Linked DNA regions of Homo sapiens. The protein of the gene in region 2 interacts with the protein of the main gene of each other region in a biochemical or structural test. Each region holds a gene or a part of one and is shown on either strand. Other genes may lie near its edges.

The links.
Region 1: of the proteins of MAPK1 (region 2) and SMAD1, one has a biochemical effect on the other in vitro, tested with the Homo sapiens proteins (3 studies listed by BioGRID).
Region 3: of the proteins of MAPK1 (region 2) and HIF1A, one has a biochemical effect on the other in vitro, tested with the Homo sapiens proteins (3 studies listed by BioGRID).
Region 4: of the proteins of MAPK1 (region 2) and ESR1, one has a biochemical effect on the other in vitro, tested with the Homo sapiens proteins (3 studies listed by BioGRID, with this or other methods).

The regions. Positions count from the first base shown.
Region 1 is NC_000004.12:145,477,225-145,485,209, reverse strand, and holds the start of SMAD1 (mothers against decapentaplegic homolog 1), read right to left. Parts: upstream 3,358-7,985; 5' UTR 3,172-3,357; intron 2,877-3,171; exon of another isoform or gene 2,034-2,876; intron 1,985-2,033; exon of another isoform or gene 446-1,984; intron 1-445. UniProt on the Homo sapiens protein: Transcriptional modulator that plays a role in various cellular processes, including embryonic development, cell differentiation, and tissue homeostasis.
Region 2 is NC_000022.11:21,758,744-21,766,905, reverse strand, and holds the end of MAPK1 (mitogen-activated protein kinase 1), read left to right. Parts: intron 1-2,665; 3' UTR 2,666-7,249; downstream 7,250-8,162. UniProt on the Homo sapiens protein: Serine/threonine kinase which acts as an essential component of the MAP kinase signal transduction pathway. MAPK1/ERK2 and MAPK3/ERK1 are the 2 MAPKs which play an important role in the MAPK/ERK cascade.
Region 3 is NC_000014.9:61,725,725-61,733,886, reverse strand, and holds part of HIF1A (hypoxia-inducible factor 1-alpha), read right to left. Parts: intron 7,182-8,162; coding exon 7,069-7,181; intron 6,435-7,068; coding exon 6,232-6,434; intron 1,470-6,231; coding exon 1,363-1,469; intron 1-1,362.
Region 4 is NC_000006.12:151,943,167-151,951,328, reverse strand, and holds part of ESR1 (estrogen receptor), read right to left. Parts: intron 7,157-8,162; coding exon 6,821-7,156; intron 1-6,820.

The DNA.
Region 1 (7,985 bases), on a different chromosome or scaffold from region 2:
GTAGTCCCAGCAACTTGGGAGGCTGAAGTGGGAGGACTGCCTGGGCCTGGGAGGTCGAGGCTGCAGTGAGCCATGATCGTGCCACTGCACTCCAGCCTGGGTAACACAGAGAGACCCTGTCTCAAAAAAATAGAATAATAAAATTTCAAAAAAAGCTACGTGTGACTATGGCTAGGATAGCAGAGCCCTAGATAATCCATAAGCTAAATAAGGATTGTCAGAAACTTAAGCAAAATAAGGATCTTCTTTTCCTGAACTGTTTATATGTTCAATTCAAATATCTTTGTTTCTGGTATAGGCCTGGTAAGTTTGACTAGTTAAAGAAATAACATGTCAGTAGATATCAATACAGTGAAAATTCAGGGGTAATAAAAGGATCAAAGTTAAGTATGTGGTCCACTGATATTTTATAAGGTCCCTAAGGCCAAGTTAAATTCAAACTCACATGAAGCATTCAGTACACATATCAGAGCTGCAAAGGTCCTTATCAGCATCCCTAAAGCATCTGTTTCTCCTCTACCAAATGAAAAGCTACTTATACAATTCAGATTGAATATCTCTGCATTTATCTTAAATTTTTCTACAGAAATTCATAGTTCTGTAAGCCTTTTCCCTCTTTCACACACACTGGTATCCCTGGCCATCTCAGCCTTTCCACTATAAACAAAACCCATGTACCACCCATATCTGAAGTATAACGCCAGACTCCTGCTTAGCTACCCCTGTAATATGGTTTAATTATGATGACTGAACTAATAGGCTGACATCATAGACTTTTACAGGCTGACCCCATGTCATCCTGATGTATCATTTTGCACCAGTTCAGTGCTGTAAATCAATTTAAGATCTCAAGCAGGTTGAAAAGGCTGGTAATGATGCTTTCTCTGCCGTCTCTGGAGACTCTACATTATACCCAACTTACATTATTTATAAAGCCTCAGTGATGCCTCCATTAGCCTTGTAAGACTACACAAATGAGATCTTTTATACACACACACTTGGCCTTGATTATGTAGGCTACTGCAGCTTAAACATGCTAGTCTAATTACTATACCCAAGCTACTTCTTTTTCCAATCTACTAGGTTATTAGATTTAATATTTAACCCAGAATTGCTAGAAATCAAAATTACAAAGTGAAATTTAGTTTTTAACTAATAAATGTAATAAACGTAGTTGAGAAAATGTGACAACTTCCTCTTAATGCCTTAATGAACTTAGTAAAAATAACATAAAATTCCAAGAAGTGTAAGAGGCCAATGTCTTTAATTGCCTAAAAATTGTCATTTCTCTAAAACACAAAGGTCATCAGCTCTTCAAGGATACGAAACCAAAGGATACTGCAAGAGGTAAAATGTATTTGGTTACATACCTATGGTTGTAGGGGTCAAAACTAAATCAAGGACAAATCCCTACCCTCAGAAGAAACTCGATCCTGCCTGGATCCTCTAGAGGCTCTGGCATCACCCACCTCCAGAAAAATCATCTCTCACGACCCTAGCTACACCTTCCTAAGAACTGCAGTATTACACCAATGATACACCACCTGCACAGAAATAGCAAATAATTGCAAATGGGAAAGAGAGTGGGAGAGGGCAGAACAAACACTTTAATCAGTACAGCATATTTAGATCTGGCACCTACATCAGAATAACACTGATGCAACAATATTTATACCAATTGAAAATGCTGGGGCAGTGAACACTTCTGTTCCGATTCTTTTTTAACACGGTCCACCTACCTTCAATACAATTTAAAGTAATTACAAACAATTTGAAAAATCAACATGGGCAGGGAACAGTTTTCTCATTGTGTTACTGAGGTGTGGGCAAGTTATCCACAACAGGCAATTAGACCCAGAGATGTTCTGAAATAGAGGCATTCTGAGATTTAGCGGCTGAGAGTTTCAGCAACAGGAAGAAATAACAGAAATCATGCAACTTCTGTATCATTCCACGTACTTTGAAACTTCAGATACAATGGAAAGAAAAGAGGGGGGAGGGCAGAGAAAAAGGACAGTTGTCTCAGCACTCACGAAAAGGATGCTTTCTCAGGAGATGGTTCTGAGACCGGCCTCAATTTTCAGAAGGAACGCGCCTTTACTGGTTATCTTGCACCGTGTATTTAAAAATTGCATGCTCTTCAAAATAAACAAAAGCTCAGCTACTGTAGCTGTGAGATCTGGCAGGCATTTGTTCCTCCTCCCCTCCTAAAGCACATCAAGAAAACGTTCTCCCTTTAAAGCCTTCATACAGTTTCAGCAACTAGAAAAACAAGCCCACATCTGTCTCTCACGCCCACCACCCCCACCTTCCTACAGAAACAACCCCGAGAAACACTAACAAAGACAGGGAGCAGAGTAAAGGAACAGTTGTTCAACCGCGAACTCACGAATACACATGCAGTGAGGCAATCGACTCCGGTAAAGGGAAAGGAACGAGACACCAGGAGACGCAGCGGGTGTAGGCGGAAGAGGGGGAAAAAATTACGCGCCGCCGCCAAACCTTTGAATAAATTAGAGGGGATCTCGGTGCGAACTTTCCTTGACCTCGACCCCAAAGAGGCTTGCTGGGGCCGAGAAGAAAACCCGTGCGGGATGTGGAGGGGCCCGGGGCGCCGGGGTCCCCCGCCCGCGAGACCCGCTCCACCAGGCGCCTTGGAGAGCAGCGCCAGCGGTCGTCCTCCAGCTCCCGCAGGGGTCGCCCCGCCGGCGCGGGGGACACAATGGGTCCGCGGGCCACGCGAACGGGCCTCGGCCCGGCGGCAGCACGGGAGAGATGTGAGGAGCGCGCGGAAGGGGAGCGCGGCCGGGGAGATCCCAGCGCGGTCAGGCCCGGGAGCCGAGGCTCGGGGGCCCGGGAACTGGGCTTCCCACAGCAGAAGACCCAACAAAGACACCAGGGGAGCCCGGCGGGCTGGGCGCGAGAAGACGTGGTAGCAGGTTCGCTCCTCCGAGCAGACGGGAGGCGCCATCATGGGGGGGGGGGGTCGCGGCCCGCCCCGCGCAGAAAGAGCCCCCTTCCCGCCGCTGCCCGCGCCCCCAGCCCAGCACGACCGCGGCGGCCCCACGCGTGCAGAGACGGCGGCGGCGGCGCTGGAAAGCCCGGGGCGCCGAGGGGAGGGCTGGGACGCGGCATGAAGGGAAAGTTCGGTTCGGGTCTGTTTCGTTTTACCGGGTTGGCGGCGCGCCCGTCCGTGTGGGAGCACGAGTGGCCGGGCGAGCGGGGTCTCGCGGCCCGGGTCCGGACGGCCGGGCGCTGCGCCACTCTCCGCTCCCCGAGCCTCGGCCCGGGTTGAGCCGCTCGGCCTCTCCTTTCTCCGCCCGCCCGCCTGCTTTCTCCTGGAGCCTGGATTGATCTGGTCGCGCTGGCGTCAGGGAGTCGGAGCTGCCCAGCCTCCACTCCTCAGCTGCCAATACCCGGCGCACTCGCCTGCCCGCCCGCCCGCTCACACGCTCACCCGCTCACCCGCGCGCCGCCGCCGCTGCCGCGCGACCAGGGATCCTCTCCAAATTCCCGGCCCGGCCGGCGTGAGCGCAGCGCGGCCGGGGCCGGAGGACGGCGCGGGGGAGCGGCCGGAGCCACCCCCTTCTACCGGCAGCCCCACGCCCCGTTTCTTCCTGGAGAAAAAACAGTGTGGCGGCGTTCAGGCTTTCCTAACCCTGCCTTTTTAGTCCCGGTGGAGCGGACTTAGTCCATTATCTGCAAGTGAATTTCGATGTTCCATATGTTTATTTTCTGAAATGTTCATTAACGCTTCCACCGCGCCCACTGAATCGTTCTATAAACGTGGAGTGCATGTTGACAGTTACCTTTCGAGACGCGCCCTTTTATGTCTATCTTTCGTTGCCCCTCACTCACTCTCCAATAATTTGCAGGCCCCAGAAGTTGTACGTACCCAGAATTGGATAGCCTAGTAAATACTGCACGTGGTTATACAAACCCTGAGTCAACAGATGCGTTTTGTGTCAACTCAGGATCCAGTGATTCGAGTAGGTAACCTTGTTGCTCCAAATAATGGCATGCCATAAGGAGATACTGCTTTAGAACTCCACATTTTTGGTCCAATTTCTACAGTCTTTTAGATGATGCCAACTCCCCCGCACTTAACTCTTACCTACCTGATCTGCATAGACATTGAAAATATCTTCTTGCAAGAGTCAACTTTTCTCTTGGCTAACTCTTGAAGCTGCATAAAATCTTGCATAATTACTATAATGTTGAGTTACGTTTAGAAAAAATGATTTTTTTTTGAGGAATAAATTTCACATGAAGCAAAAAAAAAAAAAAAAAAATCACTCCCAGCAATGTATATCAGAATATGTCTTCTAATTAAATTCCTTTTTCCCTTAACCTATTTGAGCACTTACTGGTCAATTCGTGGGCCTCATCTTATTTTCCCTAAAAGCAGCGTTTGACGCAGTTGATCATTCTCTGCTCCTTAGAACAACAGGAAAGTGAACCTTGTTAAATGCCACTCGGATCAGGCCACTCCTCTGTTGAAAACCCTCCCTTGATAAATAGTATAAAGTATCCCATACAAGAGAACATTATTCAGCCATAAAAAGGAATGAAGTACTGATACTGATGCATGCTACATGGATAACCTTTCAAAACGTGAAGGGAAAGAAGACAGACCACACATTGTATTCTTCCACATATGTGAAATGCTCAGAGTAGGCAAGGCTATGGAGACAGAAAGTAGATTGGTGGTTTGCATAGGGTTGGGGAAATGAGGAACCTGGGGAGTGACAGCTAAAGGTTATGGGGTGACAAAATTGTTCTAAAACTAGTTTCTGGTGATGGTTGCACAACTCTGTGCATATACCAAAAGCCATTAAATTGCACACTTTAAATGGGTCAATCATTTGGTATGTGAATTTTACCTCAAGCTATTAAAAAAAAAGCATGACAATGAAATGCAGTATATGACCTTGATTGGATCCTGAATGGGGAGGAGGAGCTATAAACTGTCATTTTAAAGTCGTTAATTTTTAAAAAAATCAAAAATGGCATTTATTTAATTTTGAGACGGAGTCTCGCTCGGTCGCCCAGGCTGGAGTGCAATGGCACGATCTCGGCTTACTGCAACCTCTGCCTCCCGGGTTCAAGCAATTCTCTTGCCTCAACCTCTCGAGTAGCTGGGACTACAGATACACACCACCACGCCCATCTAAGTAGAGACGGGGTTTCACCATTTTGGCCAGGCTGGTCTCAAACTCCTGGCCTCAAGTGATCCACCCGTCTCAGCCTCTCAAAGTTCTGGGATTACAGGCATGACCCACCGCGCCCAGCCTAGATGGCCTTTCTTAGTGCAGTCCTAGTAGTCTTAAATGATAACTATTAATATTATTATGTATGCAATAAAATTTGATTTTGCCCATTGTGCAAATTATTTCCTTAAATGATAATAAAAATTTGGATATTCTTTTTAAAAGGACATTGATGAGACCATTATAAAAACCTAAATATGGACTGTATATTAATATCATTTTATTAAATTTTTAAAAAATCCTCCCTTGGGTCCTCATTTCACTCAGAATAAAAGTTCCCATAATAAGCACAAGACTCTACATAATCTTTCCTTCCCCTCCTTTAGCACTCTGACCTGCACTTCTACTCTTCCTCTTGCTCACTTCCCCAAGTCACACTGGCATCCTCACTCTTCTGGAACAATCTGGGCACATTCTCACCTCAGTATCTATGTGCTAGCTGTTCCCTCCCTTTCTGAGTTCATTTTGTGTTGCTGTAATAGAATACCACTGATAGAGTTTGGCTATGTATCCCCACCCAAATCTCATCTTGAATTGTAGCTCCCATAACCTCCATGTGTCATAGAAGGGACCTGGTGGGAGGTAATCGAATCATGGGGGTGGGTTCTTCCCATGCTGTTCTCGTGATTGTGAATAAGTCTCATGAGAATCTGACGGTTTTATAAAGGGCAGTTTCCCTGCACACGCCCTCTTGCCTGCTGCCACGTAAGATGTGCCTTTGCTCCTCCTTCACCTTCTGCCATGATTGTGAGGCTTCCCCAGCCGTGTAAAACTGTGAGTCCATTAAACCTTTTTTTTTTGAGACAGAATCTCACTCTGTCACCCAGGCTGGAATGCAGTGATGCAACCTCAGCTCACTGCAACCTCTGCCTCCAGGGTTCAAGCAATTCTCCTGCCTTGGCCTCCCAAGTAGCTAGGACTACAGGCATGCACCACCACGCCTGGCTAATCTTTTTTTGTATTTTTTAGTAGAGACGGGGTTTTGTGGTGTTAGCCAGGCTGGTCTCAAACTCCTGAGCTCAGGTGATCCACCTGCCTTGGCCTCTCAAAGTGCTGGGATTACAGGCGTGAGCCACCGTACCCAGCCCTAAACCACGTTTTCTTTATAAATTACCCAGTCTTGGGTATTTCTTCATAGCAGTATGAAAATGGACCAATACAACCACCAGCTGGGCAGTTTATACACAATAAAAGTTAATTTAGCTCATGGTTCTGGGGGCTGAGAAATCCAAAATCAAGGGGCTGCATCTGGTGAGGGCCTTCTTCCTTCATCACAACATAGCAGAAGGCATCACATAGCAAGAGAGAGAACATGAGAGGAAGGGTAGAAAAGGGCCAAACTCATGCTTATATCAGCAATCCCCTCCTGAGATACCAAACCGCACTCCCATAATGCCATTAATCCATTCATGAGGACAGATCCCTGTTAAAAGAAAAACTTTAGGCAAATTAAATTTAACAGAGTTTAATTGAGCAAAGAGCAATTTGAGAACTGAGCAGCCCCCAGAACCAGAATAGTTTCAGAGCAACTCTGGGGCTGCCACAGGGTCAGATGATGTTTATGGGCAGAGAAAGAAAAGTGACAGAAAATGGAGTGAGGTACAGAAAAAACTGGATTGGTTAGAGCTAAATATTTGCTTTATTTTAACACAGTTTGAACAGTTGGCTGCCTGTGATTGACCAAAACTCTGTGATTGGTACAAGAGTTGGCTACAGTCTGTTTGCATATCCAGTTAGGTTACAGTTTGCTGTGTACAGAGAAACCTTTAGGCCTAACTTAAAATATGTATGGGCCGGGCGTGGTAGCTCACGCCTGTAATCCCAGCTACTCGGGAGACTGAGGCAGGAGAATCAGTTGAACCCGGCAAGCGGAGGTTGCGGTGAGCCAATATCATGCCATTGTACTCCAGCCTGGGCAACAAGAGCAAAACTCCGTCTCAAAAAAAAAAAAAAAAAAATATATATATATATATATATATGTGTGTGTATATATATGTATATACATATGTACATATGTATATATACGTATATATATATATATGGAGGCAGCTTTAGCCTAAACTTAATTTAACAGTCCTCATGACATAATCACCTCTTGAAGTTCTCACCTCTCAACACTGTTGCGCTGGGGATTAAGTTTACAATATATAAACTTTGGGGAATGCATTCAAACCATAGCACTCCCTGGACAGCTCTTCCCACAGATGTCCACATGGCTCACTCCTTCATCTCCCTCAAGTCTTCACTCAAATGTCTCCGTATTATTTAGCCAAAAGAGCAGGATTTTTGGTCTTCTGTGTTCATTGCTATAATCTCAGCACCTGAGCAGTGCCTGGTATTTAACAGGAGCATATTAAATACCTGTTGAATGAATGAGTAAGTGAAGCACTGTTCTAGCAGGGGATATGGTGGCAAGCAGAAAAAAATCCCTGCCCTCATTAAGGAAGACAGATAATAAATAAATACACGGCCAGACGTGGTGGCTCACACCTGTAATCCCAGCACTTTGGGAGACCGAGGTGGATGGATCACGAGGTCAGGAGTTCAAAACCAGTCTGGCCAGCATGGTGAAACTCCATCTCTACTAAAAATACAAAAAAAAAAAAAAATTAGCCGGGCATGGTGGCATGTGCCTGTAGTCCCCGCTACTTGGGAGGCTGAGGCAGGAGAATCACTTGAACCCGGGAGGCAGAGGTTGCAGTGAGCCGAGATCGT
Region 2 (8,162 bases):
GTTCCTTTCACAGTCATTTTCCCTCAGCCAGGTGGTGGCTTGTGAGCATCTCATCTCTGTCGCTTCAGGTCAGGCGGCAGTGCTGCCTGCTTAGTCTGCATTAGACACTAACAGCAAACGCGGCAAGCAGGACCTAAACACAGCCTCAGAGGGGCCCATGTAGTAGGGGAGAAAGACACACACACACACAACTGTGCACATTTTTAGTATAAAAGAGCTTCTGGGGTTGACGTGATAATTTGTTTTTCATCATTTAATCAGCATTGAGCACTTCCTTTCGCCAGTTAGGAAAGGAACAAAGATGAATAAAACCCAGGTTTTGCTTTCCAGCAGCCTCATAGCAGGAAATGTAAACAACAAGGAGTATACAGAGTCCCAGAGATGGACACAGGCATGGTGGGTCCCAGAGAGTAAGGCAGACATTAAAGCCTCACAGAGTGTGGCCGACTCGCGGCAGTTGTGCTGCAGCTGAAACCTGACAGTTGGGTTCTTTGCTGGTTGGGGAGGGGCACAGCTGTGTGGACCCTGGAAGGCGGGCATGCCAGACAGCTGGGCAAGAGGGGGGCTGCAGAGAAAGAGGCCAGCCCAGGCTGTGGCCCTTGCTTCCCCAGGAGGCCAGCTCTCCCTCACAGGTAGCTGCCTGACCTGAAGCAGTGGCTCAGGTGACTCTGGTGGCAGTAAGGATGCAGGAGGACCTCTGAGAGCAGGGACTTGGGGGAAAACTGGTCAGGCCACTGAAGAGACAGGCAGCACCGCAGGCACAAGGATGGCAAGACAGAGGCAGGGTTGCTCCTGAGGCCACAGGGCGCAGTTGCTGGCAGAACGCCTCCTGAAGCCAGCTTTGCAAGGCGGGGGACCAGTATCCCTCTCAGGTCCACCACCACTCTGAGAGTCCCGGCGTGGCAAGGACAGTCACCTCTGTGCGTTGTTCATTTGCTCCAGACACAGAAGACACACAGATGCTCCCTATGTGCTTATAGCATGATTTTTTTTCCCAACATTCTTTTAGTGACAGTTTTCAACTATTCTGAAAAGTTGAAGGAATTTAAAGTAGACACCCATATTCCCACCACCTAGATTATACAGTTAACATTAACATCTTACTTGTTTTCTCATAGATCTGTCCATCTGTTCCTCTATCCACCCATCAACCCATCGCATTTTATCCATTCATTGCAAAGGACGTTGCCAACGTCTAGACTGACTTACAATTTAGTCATCTAGAATATCACATGAATCCAGGGGAAGCTGGGGCTGGGTTGGCTGATTAAACTATGGGATAGGTTCTTTCATAAACATTTCATTTTGGTGATCACAACAGAATTTTGGGAAGTCAGCATGCATCCATGTTTATAATTGAGGAAACTGAAGACAGGAGCCTTTGAGCACTTCGCTCAAAATTGTACATCAAGTGGCAAAACTAGGCAGAGAATCCAGGTATTTTGGACCCAGAATGTCATTTTCTTGAAATGTTTGCCAGCATGAAACAGTGGCAGGCTGCACACTGCCTGTGATTAGCCTTGCTCCTTGGGAAAGTTCTCAGGACTCATTCACAATACTAAGGAGCATTGTCTCTGAGTTCCCAGCCCACACACTGGAGATCAGGAGCTCTGAATTGGAGAGCTCAGGAGGTAAAGGTGTAATAAAACATGGGAACACTGGGAGGGCACGGTTGACCGTTTGGCTGCAGCAAGAAAGGCTTAGAAACATACACCCCAGGACCACAGAGCACAGCTGTGGGGCCCCTTTGGTAGAGGAAGCAATGAAGTGATATTTGTAGTGGTGGCCGAAAGGTCTTAAAAAAGGGTCAAATTATATTCATTGTATTTTGCTTAAGGGGGTCAGTTTTAGAAATGTTTCCATGGGCAAGTTTAAAAGCTGATCATGCCTACTACCTGTGACAAGCCTCATTCCTACCCAGCCCATGTCCTCAGTCTCCTACCCTGTGAGGCGGGTGAAGGTAGAGGTCAGTGCTCAACTTCCTTCTTCATCTGCCTGATTGTGAATTTTCTCAGGTGGATTGATCACTAGGGGCATGAACCGCATTTCCCTTTGGTTTATTGAAGATGAAAGCATTTTAGGGCAGCTTTAATTTCCTGCCAACCCGTAGGTTTGGCTGCAGTTCACCTCTACATAAAAGAGACCACTTCTCCCTCTTAGCCCATCTCCAAGTCCACAGTTTGGCTATAGTTAGCCCATTCTTCTTGCCCCACCTCCTGAGTGGCAGATGGAAACCACAGCTCTGAAAGTGCTCTGTGAAATAGTAAGTGATACTCTGCTAGATTTTCATGCACTAGTGTTGGATATCTTACGGTAAATAAAGGACATCTTAGGAACACTGCAGTCAGCGTAGGCTGGGGGAGTGGCGTCTTTCCTATGAGTGTTGTGGAAACCACCTCAGAACTGTCTGAGAGGAGGTGCCTGTGGAGTGAGGGCTGACCCTGGCCCCTTCAGAACTGCCATGTGTTATCCTTGCCCAAATGTGTCCAAAGAAATGGCCATTTTGCAGGAGTCTTTTTTCCCTTTTCTGTTTTCATAATGCTATTGCTGCTGCTGCTGTTTTAATGTGGTTCACTGTTGTCACTTTTGTGTTTTGTGATGCTGATGATGATGCTGTTTTCACATGGCTCACTCTTAACTCAGTGGTCTGTTTGTGTTTCTATAGGACAAGGGCTCAGAGGACTGGACGTGCTCAGACATCGGTGTTCTTCTTCCCAGTTCTTGACCCCTGGTCCTGTCTCCAGCCCGTCTTGGCTTATCCACTTTGACTCCTTTGAGCCGTTTGGAGGGGCGGTTTCTGGTAGTTGTGGCTTTTATGCTTTCAAAGAATTTCTTCAGTCCAGAGAATTCCTCCTGGCAGCCCTGTGTGTGTCACCCATTGGTGACCTGCGGCAGTATGTACTTCAGTGCACCTACTGCTTACTGTTGCTTTAGTCACTAATTGCTTTCTGGTTTGAAAGATGCAGTGGTTCCTCCCTCTCCTGAATCCTTTTCTACATGATGCCCTGCTGACCATGCAGCCGCACCAGAGAGAGATTCTTCCCCAATTGGCTCTAGTCACTGGCATCTCACTTTATGATAGGGAAGGCTACTACCTAGGGCACTTTAAGTCAGTGACAGCCCCTTATTTGCACTTCACCTTTTGACCATAACTGTTTCCCCAGAGCAGGAGCTTGTGGAAATACCTTGGCTGATGTTGCAGCCTGCAGCAAGTGCTTCCGTCTCCGGAATCCTTGGGGAGCACTTGTCCACGTCTTTTCTCATATCATGGTAGTCACTAACATATATAAGGTATGTGCTATTGGCCCAGCTTTTAGAAAATGCAGTCATTTTTCTAAATAAAAAGGAAGTACTGCACCCAGCAGTGTCACTCTGTAGTTACTGTGGTCACTTGTACCATATAGAGGTGTAACACTTGTCAAGAAGCGTTATGTGCAGTACTTAATGTTTGTAAGACTTACAAAAAAAGATTTAAAGTGGCAGCTTCACTCGACATTTGGTGAGAGAAGTACAAAGGTTGCAGTGCTGAGCTGTGGGCGGTTTCTGGGGATGTCCCAGGGTGGAACTCCACATGCTGGTGCATATACGCCCTTGAGCTACTTCAAATGTGGGTGTTTCAGTAACCACGTTCCATGCCTGAGGATTTAGCAGAGAGGAACACTGCGTCTTTAAATGAGAAAGTATACAATTCTTTTTCCTTCTACAGCATGTCAGCATCTCAAGTTCATTTTTCAACCTACAGTATAACAATTTGTAATAAAGCCTCCAGGAGCTCATGACGTGAAGCACTGTTCTGTCCTCAAGTACTCAAATATTTCTGATACTGCTGAGTCAGACTGTCAGAAAAAGCTAGCACTAACTCGTGTTTGGAGCTCTATCCATATTTTACTGATCTCTTTAAGTATTTGTTCCTGCCACTGTGTACTGTGGAGTTGACTCGGTGTTCTGTCCCAGTGCGGTGCCTCCTCTTGACTTCCCCACTGCTCTCTGTGGTGAGAAATTTGCCTTGTTCAATAATTACTGTACCCTCGCATGACTGTTACAGCTTTCTGTGCAGAGATGACTGTCCAAGTGCCACATGCCTACGATTGAAATGAAAACTCTATTGTTACCTCTGAGTTGTGTTCCACGGAAAATGCTATCCAGCAGATCATTTAGGAAAAATAATTCTATTTTTAGCTTTTCATTTCTCAGCTGTCCTTTTTTCTTGTTTGATTTTTGACAGCAATGGAGAATGGGTTATATAAAGACTGCCTGCTAATATGAACAGAAATGCATTTGTAATTCATGAAAATAAATGTACATCTTCTATCTTCACATTCATGTTAAGATTCAGTGTTGCTTTCCTCTGGATCAGCGTGTCTGAATGGACAGTCAGGTTCAGGTTGTGCTGAACACAGAAATGCTCACAGGCCTCACTTTGCCGCCCAGGCACTGGCCCAGCACTTGGATTTACATAAGATGAGTTAGAAAGGTACTTCTGTAGGGTCCTTTTTACCTCTGCTCGGCAGAGAATCGATGCTGTCATGTTCCTTTATTCACAATCTTAGGTCTCAAATATTCTGTCAAACCCTAACAAAGAAGCCCCGACATCTCAGGTTGGATTCCCTGGTTCTCTCTAAAGAGGGCCTGCCCTTGTGCCCCAGAGGTGCTGCTGGGCACAGCCAAGAGTTGGGAAGGGCCGCCCCACAGTACGCAGTCCTCACCACCCAGCCCAGGGTGCTCACGCTCACCACTCCTGTGGCTGAGGAAGGATAGCTGGCTCATCCTCGGAAAACAGACCCACATCTCTATTCTTGCCCTGAAATACGCGCTTTTCACTTGCGTGCTCAGAGCTGCCGTCTGAAGGTCCACACAGCATTGACGGGACACAGAAATGTGACTGTTACCGGATAACACTGATTAGTCAGTTTTCATTTATAAAAAAGCATTGACAGTTTTATTACTCTTGTTTCTTTTTAAATGGAAAGTTACTATTATAAGGTTAATTTGGAGTCCTCTTCTAAATAGAAAACCATATCCTTGGCTACTAACATCTGGAGACTGTGAGCTCCTTCCCATTCCCCTTCCTGGTACTGTGGAGTCAGATTGGCATGAAACCACTAACTTCATTCTAGAATCATTGTAGCCATAAGTTGTGTGCTTTTTATTAATCATGCCAAACATAATGTAACTGGGCAGAGAATGGTCCTAACCAAGGTACCTATGAAAAGCGCTAGCTATCATGTGTAGTAGATGCATCATTTTGGCTCTTCTTACATTTGTAAAAATGTACAGATTAGGTCATCTTAATTCATATTAGTGACACGGAACAGCACCTCCACTATTTGTATGTTCAAATAAGCTTTCAGACTAATAGCTTTTTTGGTGTCTAAAATGTAAGCAAAAAATTCCTGCTGAAACATTCCAGTCCTTTCATTTAGTATAAAAGAAATACTGAACAAGCCAGTGGGATGGAATTGAAAGAACTAATCATGAGGACTCTGTCCTGACACAGGTCCTCAAAGCTAGCAGAGATACGCAGACATTGTGGCATCTGGGTAGAAGAATACTGTATTGTGTGTGCAGTGCACAGTGTGTGGTGTGTGCACACTCATTCCTTCTGCTCTTGGGCACAGGCAGTGGGTGTAGAGGTAACCAGTAGCTTTGAGAAGCTACATGTAGCTCACCAGTGGTTTTCTCTAAGGAATCACAAAAGTAAACTACCCAACCACATGCCACGTAATATTTCAGCCATTCAGAGGAAACTGTTTTCTCTTTATTTGCTTATATGTTAATATGGTTTTTAAATTGGTAACTTTTATATAGTATGGTAACAGTATGTTAATACACACATACATACGCACACATGCTTTGGGTCCTTCCATAATACTTTTATATTTGTAAATCAATGTTTTGGAGCAATCCCAAGTTTAAGGGAAATATTTTTGTAAATGTAATGGTTTTGAAAATCTGAGCAATCCTTTTGCTTATACATTTTTAAAGCATTTGTGCTTTAAAATTGTTATGCTGGTGTTTGAAACATGATACTCCTGTGGTGCAGATGAGAAGCTATAACAGTGAATATGTGGTTTCTCTTACGTCATCCACCTTGACATGATGGGTCAGAAACAAATGGAAATCCAGAGCAAGTCCTCCAGGGTTGCACCAGGTTTACCTAAAGCTTGTTGCCTTTTCTTGTGCTGTTTATGCGTGTAGAGCACTCAAGAAAGTTCTGAAACTGCTTTGTATCTGCTTTGTACTGTTGGTGCCTTCTTGGTATTGTACCCCAAAATTCTGCATAGATTATTTAGTATAATGGTAAGTTAAAAAATGTTAAAGGAAGATTTTATTAAGAATCTGAATGTTTATTCATTATATTGTTACAATTTAACATTAACATTTATTTGTGGTATTTGTGATTTGGTTAATCTGTATAAAAATTGTAAGTAGAAAGGTTTATATTTCATCTTAATTCTTTTGATGTTGTAAACGTACTTTTTAAAAGATGGATTATTTGAATGTTTATGGCACCTGACTTGTAAAAAAAAAAAACTACAAAAAAATCCTTAGAATCATTAAATTGTGTCCCTGTATTACCAAAATAACACAGCACCGTGCATGTATAGTTTAATTGCAGTTTCATCTGTGAAAACGTGAAATTGTCTAGTCCTTCGTTATGTTCCCCAGATGTCTTCCAGATTTGCTCTGCATGTGGTAACTTGTGTTAGGGCTGTGAGCTGTTCCTCGAGTTGAATGGGGATGTCAGTGCTCCTAGGGTTCTCCAGGTGGTTCTTCAGACCTTCACCTGTGGGGGGGGGGGTAGGCGGTGCCCACGCCCATCTCCTCATCCTCCTGAACTTCTGCAACCCCACTGCTGGGCAGACATCCTGGGCAACCCCTTTTTTCAGAGCAAGAAGTCATAAAGATAGGATTTCTTGGACATTTGGTTCTTATCAATATTGGGCATTATGTAATGACTTATTTACAAAACAAAGATACTGGAAAATGTTTTGGATGTGGTGTTATGGAAAGAGCACAGGCCTTGGACCCATCCAGCTGGGTTCAGAACTACCCCCTGCTTATAACTGCGGCTGGCTGTGGGCCAGTCATTCTGCGTCTCTGCTTTCTTCCTCTGCTTCAGACTGTCAGCTGTAAAGTGGAAGCAATATTACTTGCCTTGTATATGGTAAAGATTATAAAAATACATTTCAACTGTTCAGCATAGTACTTCAAAGCAAGTACTCAGTAAATAGCAAGTCTTTTTAAATGCTGCTTTATTTCACTAAATTTTGTTGTGAGGTGTCACTAAAATGCCTGCAAACAAACGTAACTGCTAATCTGAGAGGAAACCCTCTTACTAATCAGAGAAGAAACCCTCCTGTCAGAAACCTTCAGGGAAGTGAGCTGATCACACCTAAACTGGGAGTTTGCAATGGGGTATTTGAAGCACTGTGGGAGTATTCCACTGGCCCTCTCCCTGAGAGACTTAACAGTCTTCCCTGTTGTCCAGATTCTGTATAAGGCAATCAGAATAATCATCTTCCTTGTTCAGCAGAGGAGCCTGGTCCCATTTTCCCCACTTTGTGATGGGCTTCTCTCAGCGGTAGCTCAGCAGTTCCAGATGGCAGTTTGGACCAGCATCTAGGCTGGCCAGTTCGCTGTGTTTACTTAGAACCAACACGTTCAGAGCTGGCCTGGACCATCTGAGGGGAACAGGAAACACCCCTAGGCTGTGGAAGCAAGTGCAGACCCCCACCCCCGGCCCTGAAGCCAAGGGGGCAGGGTTTGGGAGTGGCCAAAGAGAAGCAGTGCAGGGATGGGTTTTCCTAGGGACAGGCTTAGCATTCCTGACTCTAGGAAGAAGGAGCAGTGAGGCGGAGAAACAGTGGAGGGGATGGTGGCATTGGGCCCCATGGGGCCGAGATGGACACAGGGCTCGTTCTCTTGAGTCTGGTGCCAAGGACAGCTGAAGACGACATCATTTTCAGGTGGAGAGGAGAGAGTGGAGGGAGATCATGCCCTGTGATGTGTCTTTTGCAGGTGAAGGTGGGAGACAAGGTCTCTGCTGACGATGAGGCAGAGCCACCGTGAAAGTTGTAATAGGAGGACTGCCCGCCGCTGGAAGGGCCTGCAGTGACGCTAGGACACCCTCTGCCTGCATGTCACGTTAGCTGGGCTGG
Region 3 (8,162 bases), on a different chromosome or scaffold from region 2:
ATCTTCAGTAACTAAAATTCCTTTAATGACTTAGGTTGGTGTCAGATTAGAGAATAATCAATAGCCTTTTTCAAGAAAATGGTGCCACAATAACTTCCTTAAATTCTGACTATGGTTTCCAGAGAACCAAAGATGCTTTAAAAAGCTATATGTAGCATATTTAAATATAAATTGATACCACATTGTAAGTCTTTTGGCAATTTAAATTAAATACTGATTTGGGAGAAAGTACTAAATAAATGCTAATGATGGTATTATTTTGAGGATTGGGGTGTCCTGACTGCAGACTTGGATTTACTCTTGAGTTCAAGGCTGATCAGTCACACAAACTCAGTGATATTCAGGTATCCTCAAGCACAGTGGGAAGTCATGCATAGGTACAGATTAAACAGGTGAGATAGTCCAAAGTTTAACTTATCTTGGGGATCTTAACATTCATTTGAGTAAAATTCAGAATCAAATCTTATGTCAAAGGTACTTGTTTTGGGTGACTATAGTAAAAAATAATTTAATTGTACATTTTAAAGAAACTAAAAGAGGCCGGGTGCCAAGGCAGGTGGATAACCTGAGGTCAGGAGTTCGAGACCAGCCTGGCCAACATGGCAAAACCCTGTCTATACTAAAAATACAAAAATTAGCCAGGCATGGTGGTACATGCTTATAATCCCAGCTACTTGGGAGGATGAGGCAGGAGAATCTCTTGAACCCGGTAGGCGGGGGTTGCAGTGAGCTGAGATTGCTCCACTGCACTCCAGCCTGGGCGAGAGTGAGATCCTGTCTCAAAAGAAAAAAATAAAATAAAATAAAATAAAAATAACCAAAAGAGTATAACTGGATTGTTTGTCACACAAGATAATGCTTGAGGTGATAGGTACTCCATTTATCCTTATGCACTGCATGCCTATATCAAAATATTTCATGAACCCATAAATATAAATACCTAACTATGCACTTATAAGCATTTTTTAAAATGGTACTTATTACCAAAGGTGATGTTCACCACCTTCACATTCATTGATTGTACAAATACTTTCTGAGTGCCTTTTACATACCAACCACTGTTCTGAGTATTTATGTGAATTCTGAAAATTATGCTATTCAATACTCTATAATATTTGGATTTTCAAAAGTCTTTGTATTTAAAATGCCAGGAAGTTTTTTCTATGATTAAATGATTCTATTTTTACTGATATTTGTTGCAACACATACAAAACACAAAATGGTCAAGATCTCTACTGAATAGGCCTGTTAACACATTTAGTCTAGAACTTTTAACCAGAGAATTAGATGGGTAGCCAAACTGTACAGAGGTTGCAACAGTTAAGTAATTAGAATATCTCTGAGTTCTTCCATTGTACTTACTATCATGATGAGTTTTGGTCAGATGATCAGAGTCCAAAGCATGATAATATTCATAAATTGAGCGGCCTAAAAGTTCTTCTGGCTCATATCCCATCAATTCGGTAATTCTGTTAGTAAAAAATACAAGATTTAAGAAAAAAAAGGGAGACACTGATAAAGAAAAATTTTTCTCCTCCCAAGTTAACTGATAGGCATTAATCTTATGGACAAGTGAATTTTCAAAAATGAGCATCCTCCTTTGCTTAGAATAAATTTACACCTCACCTTTGGCAACTACAGTTATTAAATCCAACACCACACATTTCTTTAAGTCCTCTAGATTCCTCCTGTTATTTAACTCTTTAATCCTGTTCACCCAAACTTGTTACCTGGTCTTTTTTTTTGAGACAAGAGTTTCCCTCGTGTTGCTCAGGCTGGAGAGCACAATGAGGTGTGATCTTGGCTCACCGCAACCTCCACCTCCTAGGTTCAAGCGATTCCCCTGCCTCAGCCTCCCAAGTAGCTGGGATTACAGGCATGTGCCACCATGCCCAGCTAATTTTGTATTTTTAGTAGGGATGGGGTTTCTCCATGTTGGTCAGGCTCGTCTTGAACTCCTGAACTCAGGTAATTCACCCGCCTTGGCCTCCCAAAGTACTGGGATTACAGGCATGAGCCAACGTGCCCAGCCTACTTGTTACCTATTCTTATTACATCTCATTATACATACTTTTGGTAACAAGGCAGGGTATTAATAAACAGATAAGAAATACTACTAAACTACATGGTAAAAGTTATAAAGGTAGTCACTTACACTTATTTTAAAATATAGATAAAATCTGTAACATTTCTTCATAAAGCCAAATTCTTTATGTAGTAACTTTTAAGCCCCTAGGCAACACCTCACTTTGAGAGATCAATAGCCATTACACAATTCTAATATCATCAACCAAAGAGCATCTACACTAAATGGGAACTAAAGGAATTATGTTGGTTTTTGAAGATGCTCTTGTACTTAGTTTAGTTTTTGGCATTACATGAAATTATGGGAGTAATTTCAGATAAAACAATATTTCAAATGAAAATAGATTGGAAAACAATCCAATTACCCTATCTAGCTCGCTGGCAGAGAGTAGACCTTTATTTAAGACAGAGACTAGATCTTATTCTCTGTAAGCAGTATGAAATGGCAACCATGACATGAGGAAGAGAAAGCTGTCTTCTTAGTACCATGCTGAACAGAAATACTCTCTTCTCAAGTCTTTCTAGGAGCAAAACATGAGTTAAGCTTTTAGATTCTCAGCCTTTAGATTTCAGAGGACTTTCCTACCGAGGTGCAAGCAAACCTTATATAACATGCTGTGTGTCAAAAAAAAAACCCTACCTAACTACAGGAAGGACATAGGCAAGATATTCTATAAAGGTATAAAAGTAACATTGCTTGTGTTCTCACACTTAAAGGCAAGATCTTCCATAGTTTATTACAAAATAAATATACAAAGGAAAAGCTGATTTGCCAAAAACCAAACCAAACTCAACTCAAACCCTCAATTCTTTACAAAGGGACATCTCTAAACACAGCAACACCAGGTGGCAGCATTATAAAGGAAAACATGTTTTTAAACAAAATCAGTCATATTTCTTGAAATTATGCTTTAAAAATAATTCTAATTGGTCTTATATTTTTCTGTTTAAATAAAATCCCCATGGAATTAAAAACTTTTTCACTATTCAAATCTTAATATGCCTATGTGTGCCCGGCATTATTCTAGGCATGAAAATGCAAAGACAAAACTCAATACGTGGCTAATCTTCCAGTAGATGTACTGTACTACTTAGGAAATAATGTGATAAATGCAGTGATGAGAATCTATTCCATGGAATCCTATCCATGCAAAGGAATGGTAGAATGAGGAACAGCCTCTTATAGGAGACTTATGACTAGAGACAAAGGAAAGGCAAAACCGCTTTCAGGAAAAAGGTATGGTATAAACAAAAGATTTTTAAAAATGCTTAACATGGTGCAGGTAACAAAGATTCTATAATATGATTAGTGGAGACAGATATGAGATGATGCTGAAGAAGTAGGTAGGGGGATCAGATTAATGAAGGTATTGTTTATATTGTCATAGGAAGCTCTGATTTAATCTAATGTCAATCAGTGCTTCTCAATCTGAGGTATGTCTATCACTAAAAGATACCAAGAAGTCAAAAATATAAACTGTATATGCTTTCCTAGAAGGTCAGTTTTACACATATTAGAGCAAGAAAAGTGAGGTTAATTTAACTTTAGAGAATTACATAGGTTATATTCTATACCAAAAGGGTCGGGGTGTCCAGAAAATATGACCAAAAAGTGTTTTTAATGGACTAGGAAACCCATGATCTAAAGCAGTATACTACTCATTTATTTTGAGGCAGGAACTGTTCATCTTCATTTCTACTTTAGTGCCATGAACATAGTAGATGCTCAAATAAAGTGTTGAATAATTTTAAATGATTATTACTCAGTATAGTAAATAGCAGCTATTTGTGGAATATTTTGGAGTTGAGGAGCTTGATATGTTAGATTTTCTTAAAATTGAGCAAAATTTTTTCCATAGCTTGGTTCTCAGGGGTTATAGATGCAAGAAGTTCCTGGAAAGAGCTCTAAACCAGAAAATAACAGTCTGCTGGTCAAACTCAAAACTGTCTTGGTTGATATATGAGCTGGCTGTCTTTACTGTTACCTCCTGTCATGATCATTTTGCTAATTTTCTGCTATAACTAGAGGGGAATGTCACTCCCTTTCTCATTTTTGCTCCACTACCTTCCTTTCTCCCTGGCCTCCTCTCTACTTTGTTACCTTAAGTTTTCAAAAAAATAAAAAATAATTCCTCAAAATAGGATGGAAATCTCTGTCCCATCATACATTTACATGCTAGTAGTAAACACCTTAAAATAATTCTTAGCTTTTCTATATTCATTTTCTTAAAGTTGACACCAGTAGTGAAGCATTCACTATCTGTACTAGGCACTCAATGGACTCCTTTAATCCTGACAACATCCTTCTGAGGTCTTTTTTTTGTTTTGTTTTTGTTTTTTGAGATGGAGTCTCACTCCGTCTCCCAGGCCGGAGTGCAGTGGTGCAAGCTTGGTTCACTGCAACCTCCGCCTCCTGGATTCAAGCAATTCTCCTACCTCAGCCTCCCAAGTAGCTGGGATTACGGACATGTGCCCCCATACCCAGCTAATTTTTGTATTTTTAGTAGAGATGGGGTTTTACCATGTTGGCCAGGCTGGTTTCAAACTCCTGACCTCAGGTGATCCACCCACCTCGGCCTCCCACAGTGCTAGGATTATAGGCATGAGCCACCCCACCCAGCCATGATTCTTATTTTATAGATAAGGAATGTGAATTTTACAACAGTTAAGTACCAAGGCCAAGGCCACATTGTAAGTATCAGAGCTGCAAGCCATGAGTGAATCTAACATCTGATTCCAAAGACAGAGTTAGGGCCAGAGCATAAATATCTTTGTTTGCCATGCTAAGTTTAGATTGTATTGTGTAGGTCTATTTTTTTTCAGTCTTCTAAAATACACATCTTCTTTTGATAAATGAAAAATTTACTTCCCTCATCTAGTATTTTTATAAACAAAATATTTTTGTGTGCAAAGATGGAGGGAAGCATTTGAGGCATTTTCAACAACAGAATGACATGATCTGATTTTCACATTAGGACACCCACTTTCTGGCAACTTAGATGAAAGATTATAAGGGTACAAATCTGTTGGCAAAAAGGCAGCTATGCCAACAACTCAAGTCAAGAGTAATAATGAGCTAATGAATTCAATGGCAGGAGTGCAAGGATGGAAAGGAGGAAATGGATCAAGAGATATATGTAGATAGTAAATCTGTAAGATTTAGACACCAACTGTATGTAGCCAATGAATGTAAAAGAAAAGTTACAGATGACTTCCAAAGTTTTGCTGGAGTCATGTGTGTATGGTGGTGTATTAAACCACAATAAGCATTATAGGAAGAAAGGCAGTTTTTGATGATGATGTTGTTTGGGGGCAGTAGTAGTACAGTTGTTACAGTAATACTTAGTTTACAATACAGAAGAATATCCAGATAGAAATATTAAGTTGGCAATTAAATAGAATTAGTTACAGGAAGAAATGTGGGAAATAGTAATAGAAACCATGGGCAAGGTTGAAGCTTCTCAGGGAAAATATGTAGGATGAAGAGATGTACAAACACTTGGCTTTCTAGTCCCCAACCTAAGGTAATCTATCTTTGCTCAAAATACACACTGCATATCTTTGAAATTCTCTAAGTAAGTAGAGCCCCTATTGGGGAAAAAAAGACTCATCTTAACTTCTGGATAGCACCTAGTAAAGTAAGTGTTCATAGTACAGAGTAAATGTTCAATAAATGTGGCTGAATTAATTTACAAAGTTAATCTAATATTATAGGATGTATCATTCTGTTCAATTTAGTGGAAAGTATAGTTTAACATTGAGTAATTTTTTTTTTTTTTTTTGAAATGGGAGTCTTGCTCTGTCATCCAGGCTTGCAGTGTGGTGGTGTGAGCTCAGCTCACCACAACATCCACCTCCCAGGTTCAAGCGATTCTCCTGCCTCAGCCTCCTGAGTAGTGCCTGCCACCACGTCCCACTAATTTTTGTATTTTTTAGTAGAGATGGGGTTTCACCACATTGGCCAGGCTGGTCTCAATCTCCTGACCTCAGATGATCCACCCCCCGCTTGCCTCAGCCTTCCAAAGTGCTGGGATTACAGGTGTGAGCCACCATGCATGGCCAGCGCTGAATCTTTGCTATGGTGAATATTCAGTAATGCTGTAGACTAATTAAAAATTTCAAATTCACATTTTAGATCTAATTTACCTTTCATCACAATAAGAAAATTTCATATCCAGGCTGTGTCGACTGAGGAAAGTCTTGCTATCTAAAGGAATTTCAATATTTGATGGGTGAGGAATGGGTTCACAAATCAGCACCAAGCAGGTCATAGGTGGTTTCTTATACCCACACTGAGGTTGGTTACTGTTGGTATCATATACGTGAATGTGGCCTGTGCAGTGCAATACCTGTGTATGAAGAACAAAGCAGTTAAAAAAAATATTTACAATGCTAGGGAAAAAAAAAGCAGAGATAAGTAGTTGAGTCTGACATGGCCAGTAAGCTTTGATAAAATTTACTGTCACTAGTGGATTAATCACGTTTTTGAAAATCAATGAACATTTTTCCTATGATACCACCTATGACCTACTTCCTGCCCAGGGCCTATACATTACTCTTTAAAAAATTCCCCTCGTATAAAGTCTAGGCTGCTTTTTCATTCATCTCATCATCATGGCTGTTTGATAGTTATTTCTTGCACTGATGACTATGTTTCAACATTGAACAAAGATATAAAACCATGATTAATAGAAAATTAAGCCCTATCAGGATTCAAATATTGTGTGGCTGGCAAAGCCAACTGATTAAGCCTGGAACACCAGTGCCACAATTCACGTAATTTAAGTTTGTGCCTCAAATTGGCAAATTACTACACGGTTCTGCATTTTGGAGATCACATGCAAATGAGTTGAAGATATAAATGTTACATAACCAAACACCATGGAACTGTAAACCTTCCCTCACAATTCTAAAGTTATCTTAATACTACAATGTCTATGTATAAATAAAGTGTATAATCAATCACAAATAATTTTCACTTACCTTCCATGTTGCAGACTTTATGTTCATAGTTCTTCCTCGGCTAGTTAGGGTACACTTCATTCTGAGAAAAAAGCTTCGCTGTGTGTTTTGTTCTTTACCCTTTTTCACAAGGCCTAATGAAAGCATGAAATAAAGTTTTAAAGCAACTAAATATACAAATTTGTTACAATAAAAGTAACAAAGTGCCCATCACCTAGATCAACTGAATACCCGTTCAATTAAGTCTCAGCATGAACACAGTAATTCATTCCCCTTTTACTCACTCCAGCACACCCAAGAGATCTGACACACACTACTCAGTAGCTGTGATTCCCTGAGTTGGCTGAAAGATAATCCATATTTGGGATAACAGTTAATCATTGAAGCCAGTAAGCTTAGTCAAATACACAGAAATATAAAAATGGTATGAGTTTGCTCTTTAACTGTGCTATCGGTACACAAGAATCCCTAAAGAAAGAACTTCAGCAAACTCTTCCTATCCTTTCCTGAATGTGTTAGCTCAATTTCTAATAAGCACTCTATGTCTTTATAGAACCTTTAAAATAACAACTTTCTTTTTAATAACAAATAACATTTTTACGTATCTTATTTTTTTCCCCTTAATTTATCTAGTAAAGCAGGCAGAAAATTACTTCTACTTTGTTACTATGAGAAAACAACAACAACAGATCAAATGACTTATCAAAAGTTACAGAAATAGGCAGGGCACGGTGGCTCATGCCTGTAATCCCAGCACTTTGGGAGGCTGAGGCAAGAGGATCACTTGAGGTCAGGAGTTCGAAACCGGCCTGGCCAACATGGTGAAACCCTGTCTCTACTAAAAATACAAAAATTAGCTGGGTGTGATAGTGGGTGCCTGTAATCCCAGCTACTTGGGAGACTGAGGCAGGGGAATCACTCGAACGTGGGAGGCAGAGGTTGCAGTGAGCTGAGACTGTGCCACTGCACTCCAACCTGGGATATAGAGCGAGAATCCATCTCAAAAAAAAAAAGCTACAGAAATAAAGTCAGAATTAAGTAAAGTCTATTCACTCCAATTTCAAACCTTCTATAACTAAAAATGAGATTATATTTAGGTGACTGAGAAAAGAGCA
Region 4 (8,162 bases), on a different chromosome or scaffold from region 2:
ATAAAAGAAGTCTGAAAAATACTTCTGTAGGAGGCTGTTCGAATGAAACCGAAACAACTGTGGAGCCATCTGTAGGAAAACGACATTGGAGCCCCAGCTCACACAGCATACCAGGATGAATTCAAATGCATCAAAGATGCAAAAAAAGGATAAACTACTAAAGTACCAGAGGAAAACATTATTCTGAAGGGTAAAATCTTTTACAAGGTATTTATGAGGTAGATGCATGAAACTGTTAACAATTATAAATTAACTTCTGATGTGTAAACTCTTACAATTATAAATCAACTTCTAAGCCTGTTCAGTGAACTACTTGGGCAGGCAGAAGAGAAATATACAAGAGTAAATGATTAGCCAAGTCTATACTAGATGAGCCAAACCTTCCTCCTTAAATCAATAGCTCCTTATTTCTTTTGCCTCAAAAATACAATAGAAGAAAATTCTATTTTTAATACACTTTGTATTAATTTCCTAGGGCTCCCATACAAAGTATCAAAAACTAGGTGGCTTCAAAAACAACAGAAATGTACGCCTCACAGTTCTGGAGGCTAGAAGTCTGAAATCAAGGCCATACTCTCTCTGAGGGGGAGAGTCCACTCTTGCCCCTTCTAGTTTCCGATGTTAGCCAGTAAACCTTGGCATTTCTCAGCTTGCAGACCCAGCACTCCAGTCACATGACCGTCCTCTTCCTGTGTCTCTTCATATCATCTTCTTCTGTGCATGTCTGTTTCTATGTCTAAATTTCCCCTTTCATTAGAATGCCAGTCCTTATTGGATTAGGGCTTGTGCTAATGACTTCACTTGAAGTTGATTACCTATATAAAGGCACTATTTCCAAAGAAGGTCAGATTCTGAGATACTGGGGGTTAGGACTTTAACATGTCTTTTTGAGGAGAGACAACTCAGCCCATAACACACTTCAATCATAATCTATCTATTACTTAAAACACACATTCTCCATGCCAAATCCCCCTGGAAGTAGCAAAGCCACAGGCCAACATTCCCCACAGGGTGCCCTGGGGACACCACAAGTCCACTACGTTCAACATAAACACACACTGACCCAGACTCACTGTATTAGTCTGTTTTCACACTGCTCATAAAGACACATCCCAGAGTAGGCAATTTACAAAAGAAAGAGGCTTAATGGACTTACAGTTCCATTGTGGCTGGGGAGGCCTCACAATCATGGCAGAAGGTGGAAGGCACATCTCACATGGTGGCAGACAAGAGAAGAAGAGCTTGTGCAGAAAAACTCCCCTTTTTAACACCATCAGATCTCTTGAGACTTACTCACTATCACAGGAACATGGGAAAGACCTGCTCCCATGATTCAACTACCTGCCATGGGTCTCTCCTACAACAGATGGGAATTCAAGATGAAATTTGGGTGGGGACACAGGCAAACCATATCACTCACTGACACAGAACCTGGAGGAGGGTGGGCAAAATGCCCCAGACATGTTTCTCAAATACTCTCAAGATGAGAAAGGGATTTTTAAAGGTTTAATAGCATCCAGGCCAATAAGCATCTATGAGGCTTCAAAGTTTCATGTGAAAGAAAAATCCAGTCAACAGCAGCTGCTTTCCTTGCGTTTCACCAGAGCTTCCACGGGAGCAGTAGAAAGCTGGGTGGGGTGACTTGGACATGGAACACTTGCAAAAAAGCTGCATATTGCCAGTCCAGAGGGGCTGCCATCATGCCTGCTAGGGCGATTCCAGCCCAATCCTAAGGCTCTTATTATACAGTGGGTGCAAAATCTAAATGGCAAATCTTGTCCTTAAACAGAGGCTTCTGTCATCTCTCCAGGATGTCACCCATATGTCCATGTCATGTTATCTTTCATTACCTTGCCAAAGCATGCTGGACACCACAACAGTTTGAGAGCAGGGTTTACTGGTCCAATGACAGGTTGGGAAGCAGAGTGCTGGGAAGCCCTGCTAAATCTCTGAAATCTACAGGAACCTCCCAGAATTGAGTGTGTTCCTTGTAGATGCTCCCAATTCCCAGACTGAGGTATTACACCTTCTCCGGGAACCCTCATCCCTACCCACTTTAAGTTTCCAATTTCATTCGCTAAGTGAAACTCACTTGCAGATAGAGTTGAAGCCTGCTAAAGTCCTCAGAGCGCATGGCTCCATATTTCTCTAGCTGTTTCTCTGTCCCTTACAAAAGAGAGATTGGAAATGGAAATAGAATCTCACTATGGTGGCTGTCAGGGAGATATCAGAACAGCAGGTAGATTTTGAGGAGAGGAAAAAGGAGAAATGTCACAGCCTTAGAGAGCAGTTCTAGTTTATGGGAAAATTGAGCTGTAACAGGGCTCAGAGACTTCTTAAAATTAAGACTTTCAAAAATCACCTTTCATTTGTTCATTTATTCATTTATTCAAGCACTTCCTGAGCTCAAATCTGCTCATTTTAATGATGAGGATGAGGATGAGAGGCAGAGAAGTGAATTCCTGGATTCCTGGGGAATACAGACACAGAAGAGGCCTTGAGCCCTGGAATAACTCACACAACCATGCATCCTCGAGACAACACAGAAACTTCCAAGAAATCTGAACTTGGGGCTGGTGGGAGACATGTCCAGAAAGAGGAGATTGCCTACCCCTGGGGCCAAAACTGAGCAAGGAGGCAACCTGAAGTAAATGACAGGGAGTCAGGACTGAGGAGGAAGAGGGGCCTTCTAGAGTGTTGATTAGAGGGGGACTCGGCAGGAAAGGGGAAGGAGAAGGTCGTCTAGTTTGCCACTAAAAGAATGAGGAAGTGGTTAAGGTGACATGTTTCACAGGAAGCCAAGCTGCCACTGAACTGCCCCTTTTCCTCTTTTCCTCTTCCTGGGCCAACACTCTGAGTGCACTCTCCCAGATCTGTGCCCAGCAGCAGTTCATGAGGCTGCTACACTTTGGGTTATAAGTATTTAACAGGCAATAAAAAACTCAGGGCTAGATATCTATCCAAATCTTCATAAAATATATAGAACTATAGCACAGACTTGAAGTATAAAATTGCTTTCGAGACATGTAAAATTATGGTGAATTTTGGAAAGGGCTTAACTTTCAATAAATCAAAATGACACTTTGGTGACACAATTCAAGCTTCTGGGGAAAAAAACTCAGATGTATTTCATTAACACTGAAACTAAGAATGAACCACTCAATGATGCAATTGAGTGTGATGCTGAAATCAAAAATACAACCACTCTTGCAGTCATATTTTTTCCTTTTTAACCTTCAGCTCAATGATATTACATTTATTGACTAGTTTCACCATGTGTAAAATAATAGTAAATTAAGATTTAATTATCTACTTTTAAAAAAACTGAATTTCTACCCAGGGATAAGGCTATAAAATTCCTATTAAATATAAACAAATTTCAGAGCAAACAATAAGGAGAAAAGTCTTCTCGATAGATAAATATCAAAAAGTAGATACATAGTATGTGTTATAAAAAAAACATCTTTTGTCAGAGCTGGCTTCATAGGTTTTATCATTCTTGTTGCTACTGTTGTTTTTAAACTGCAAAGAGAAAAAAAATCATTTCTTAAGGTCATCTTTATCCAGGTCTACCAGAAGTACTTTATGGATTGGAACTTGACTCTCACACTTGTATGATGCATTCTATCCCAAAGCTCTTCACATCTTAATTCTGAGTAGAGAAACATATCAAGTCAAAAAATAAGCCCCAGGGGTTAATGAAAAGGAAAATTCAACTTATAATCATCAACATTTGAAAATTCTGACAATATTCTGTTAATTAAAAGAAAGAAGAAAGAAGCACTTCTAGAGCTACTAAGCCCAAAGTATTGACTATTTTTGTTAAAAATTCATCATTCAAAATGAAGTCAATTCATAGTTTTTGTTATATTGATAGGTATTCTGAGGATTATCCAAATGTTTCATGAGGGTTTTTGTATCATATAGCTAATTCTGGGTATTTCTAGAACTGAAATTTTGCTATTCTTCTTACTAATGACATTTACTATTTCCTTCTTTATTTATTTATTTAGAGACAGAGTCTCATTGTTGCCCAGGCCGGAGTGCAGTTGTGGGGTCTCGGCTCACTGCAGTCTCTGCCTCCCAGGTTCAAGCAATTCTCCCACCTCAACATCCCAAGTACCTGGGACTATGGATGTGTGCCACCAAGCCTGGCTAATTTTTGTACTGTTTTGTAGAGACAGGGTTTTGTCATGTTGGCCAGGCTGGTCTTGAACTCCTGACCTCAGGTGATCCACCCGCCTCGGCCTCCCAAAGTGCTGGGATTACAGGCATGAGCCACTGTGCCCGGCTTATTTCCTCTTTTAAAACTTACTATTATTATTGTCATTCTCAAACTATTATCTCATAAACGTTATATTGTCTATATCAGATATTCAGTGTGGGCTATGTTTTTTAAATAACAGATGGTATTTGAATATATAAAAGATATAAATCCTTTTCAAAATGTTGCTTTGTCTATTTTTCTGAAAAGTTTGACAACCATCTGTAGAGCTTTTGCAGAAGACTTTTTTCTTCCCTCACTTTTAGTCTCTTTAAAATCAATGACTATTTTTATTCTGCTTGGTCAGGCAAGTAGGCCTTTGATTTACAACAGCTGTATTCCCATGGAACACACACAAACACACATACATATAATTTCATTTTTGCCTTTATAATTCTTTTTTTTAATTATCAAGTAAGAAGACATAGTTTATTGGTCTAAGGATTTTGGAATCATTCAGGTCTTTTAAACGAACATGATGAAGTTACAGAGTGGTTTTGTTACACATCTCATTGCCATAATTTTGTCTAGCTCTGGCTTTAATAATTGTATTTTAACTATTGCTAGCCTGTGTATAATATTTTCCTTTCCTTGACTTCTCCATTTTATTCCTAAATTCAGAAGATTATTGATGTGAATTCTTCAACCACTGGTAATGTATTTGAGCTTAATTCCAGTTGTTTAAAATGCTCTTCAACATTATTATAAAAATGTCATGATGGGAATCTACTGATACACATGAAAATGTCTGTACTTGAGTTCAGCAGTGCTCCAGAGCTAATATTCCCAAGATTTCATAAGGGAAAATATATGTTTACAGGAAAATAAAACTGAACAGCAACCAAGAGTTGGCTCTCAAATATATGACCATTAGTTTCTTTGCTTGTTTGTTTGTTTCTCTTTCCCTATAATATAAGAACAAGGCAATAACAAATATAAAGAAAAAACTTACAGCCATATTACAATTAGATTCCAACAATTAACTTATAATGTATCTGCTTCATATGAAAATGCTAAAATATGTAGGTACTCAAGAAAACTTTTCATTCTGAAGATGACCAGAAATTTTTGTTTGCCAGTTCGACTGACACTGAAAACCTACATTTGCCTATTATTCTCCATGCTTCCATGTAAACTAATAACCACTCAACCACCAAAATGGTGGCCTCTAACAAGGCTGGGTTCTGGTACTGCTGGCTCCTTATTCTACGGCCCACATGTTTATATACTGATAGATGCAAATACATGTAAGATTCTCTAAGGCCAGACATAAGTTCACTTGGCCTATAACAGAGCAGTGACCCTTGAAATGCAAGTACAAACTCCACATTTTTTTAGTTTCATATAAAACATTTCATGCTTCATAGGAAACAATTAATTTCATCTATTAAAAGAAACCAAATGAGAAAACCTCCAACTAAATCTATCACTCATTTAACCTATAAGCCCAGAAAAAAAATTTAGCTTCTTCTTGCCTCGGTTTATCTACATTAGCTCCTGAACGAATACACTGGGGCAGGGAGAAAGTCATTTTCTAGTCTTGTTGCCATACAAACTTGAGTTCTTCTCCCTGAATAACAGGAGTAACAGTCCAATTTTACCAGAACACCAGTTCTGAGAGAATCAACTGAAGGAACAAGGTATCACTTCAGCCACTGTGTCTTTCTAAAAGTTTCTTTCAGGGATGATACCTTAATTTATTTTTCCATTGCCTTTCTCTTTCTCCTAAAACACTAAGCATACACCAGGTTGGATAAATAATTGGCATTCAGTAAATACACTTATTATTATCTTTTTAATCCATAAAGATCTTTCTCTTTTTTTGTGTGGTTTATTTTTTATGACACGGTCTTGCTCTGTCACCTGGGCTGGAGTGCAGTGGCACTCCACACAAACATGGTTCACTGTAGCTTTGACCTCCTGGACTCAAGCCATCCTCTCACCTCGGCCTCCCCCATAACTGGGACCACAGGTGTGTGCCACTGCATCCAGCTAATTTTTAAAAATTTGTTGTAGAGACAGGGTTTCGCCACGTTGCCCCGGATGGCCTCAAGCTCCTGGGCTCAAGCAATCCTCCCACCTCAGCCCCAAAAAGTGCTAGGATTACAGGCACGAGCCACCACACCGAATCTTAAAAATCTTTTTAAGATAAAATCGTTTGATTAATAATTGAGATGTTTTCAACAAAGGTCATTAATATTACAAACTTTTGTAGTTCATTTAGTGTTAAAAGTTTCTGCTACTGTGAACATACACTATTAAATAGTTTTACCATGTAGTGTCCACCCTAAATCTTTTTGGTAAATGAGATGGGTTAAAAATAAATTATGTCAATTTAAGAATTTCAGTCTTCTAGATTCTGATTTAAAAATATTATTTCCTAATCTCCTGGAAAATTACAGTGTATTGATACTGAAAATGAACACATCTCCTGTAACCTTGAAACCAATTACATAACATGTTATTGCTTCTTTTTCCCCCACTATTTCTCCCATGACATCACAACAAGTTCTTGAAAAGCTATTGACTCTTAAAAGCTGCGCTTCGCATTCTTACCTGGCACCCTCTTCGCCCAGTTGATCATGTGAACCAGCTCCCTGTCTGCCAGGTTGGTCAGTAAGCCCATCATCGAAGCTTCACTGAAGGGTCTGGTAGGATCATACTCGGAATAGAGTATCGGGGGCTCAGCATCCAACAAGGCACTGACCATCTGGTCGGCCGTCAGGGACAAGGCCAGGCTGTTCTTCTTAGAGCGTTTGATCATGAGCGGGCTTGGCCAAAGGTTGGCAGCTCTCATGTCTCCAGCAGACCCCACTTCACCCCTGCCCTCCCCATCATCTCTCTGGCGCTTGTGTTTCAACATTCTCCCTCCTCTTCGGTCTTTTCGTATCCCTGAAAACACAGGTGGAAAAAAAAATTAGTTTATTTTTTTCCCGTGTAAACTTTTATACAAAAAATTTTCAAAGCTAACCAGCTTTCATTTTATTTGAAGAAATACTTTCAAGCACAGGTGAGCTGGTAAGTGTTCAACAAGTGGCTCTCCAAGAGAAGAAGAAAAAGATTTCTATTTGTAGCAGTTTTCATGGTGTAAATACTACCACCATAACATGCCAATTTTCATGGTGTAAATACCACCACCATAACAAACTTCAGGCCACTTGTCTGACATCAAATGGCTTACAAAACTCCTGAAAATTGAACAGTAGGCTTTGGTGAGCCCATACAAACTGATTCCGACACACTAGGTAGGGGTGTGTGTGTAACAGGTGTTATAAAAAGAACAGAATTCTAATTTTAGTTATTCTTAAAATAGAATTTAGCATCCAAGACTACTTCTGCTAGGAATATTCTTTTAATAGTAAATTAAAAGGGCATTTTTAAAAGCATTTAGTCCAAGTAGACTTCTTAATGGGCAAGACTAAATAAGAATGACTTGCTCATAAGGTATATTACAGCCTCTGGCCCCCTGGGGTGCTAAGTCCTTCACTGTTACTAACCTGCTCCTCATCACCCTAGGATTGCCCCAAGTCCCTCAAGTCATTTACTGGATTTTAAGCTTTTCACAAATGTATTTGTTTTTTCCTAACATAAAAGTTGTAAAATTCTAAAAAGAGTTTGTTTTATTTGATAATTTCCCCCCAAAGGTGGTTTTTTTTTTGTTTTTGTTTTTTTTTGTTTTTTTTTTAAGATGGAGTCTCGCTGTGTCACCCAGGCTGGAGTGCAGTGGCGGGATCTCGGCCCACTGCAAGCCCCGCCTCCCAGGTTCACGCCATTCTCCTGCCTCAGCCTCCTGAGTAGCTGGGACTACAGGCACCTGCCACCATGCCCGGCTAATTTTTTGTATTTTTAGTAGAGACGGGGTTTCGCCGTGTTAGCCAGGATGGTCTCGATTTCCTGA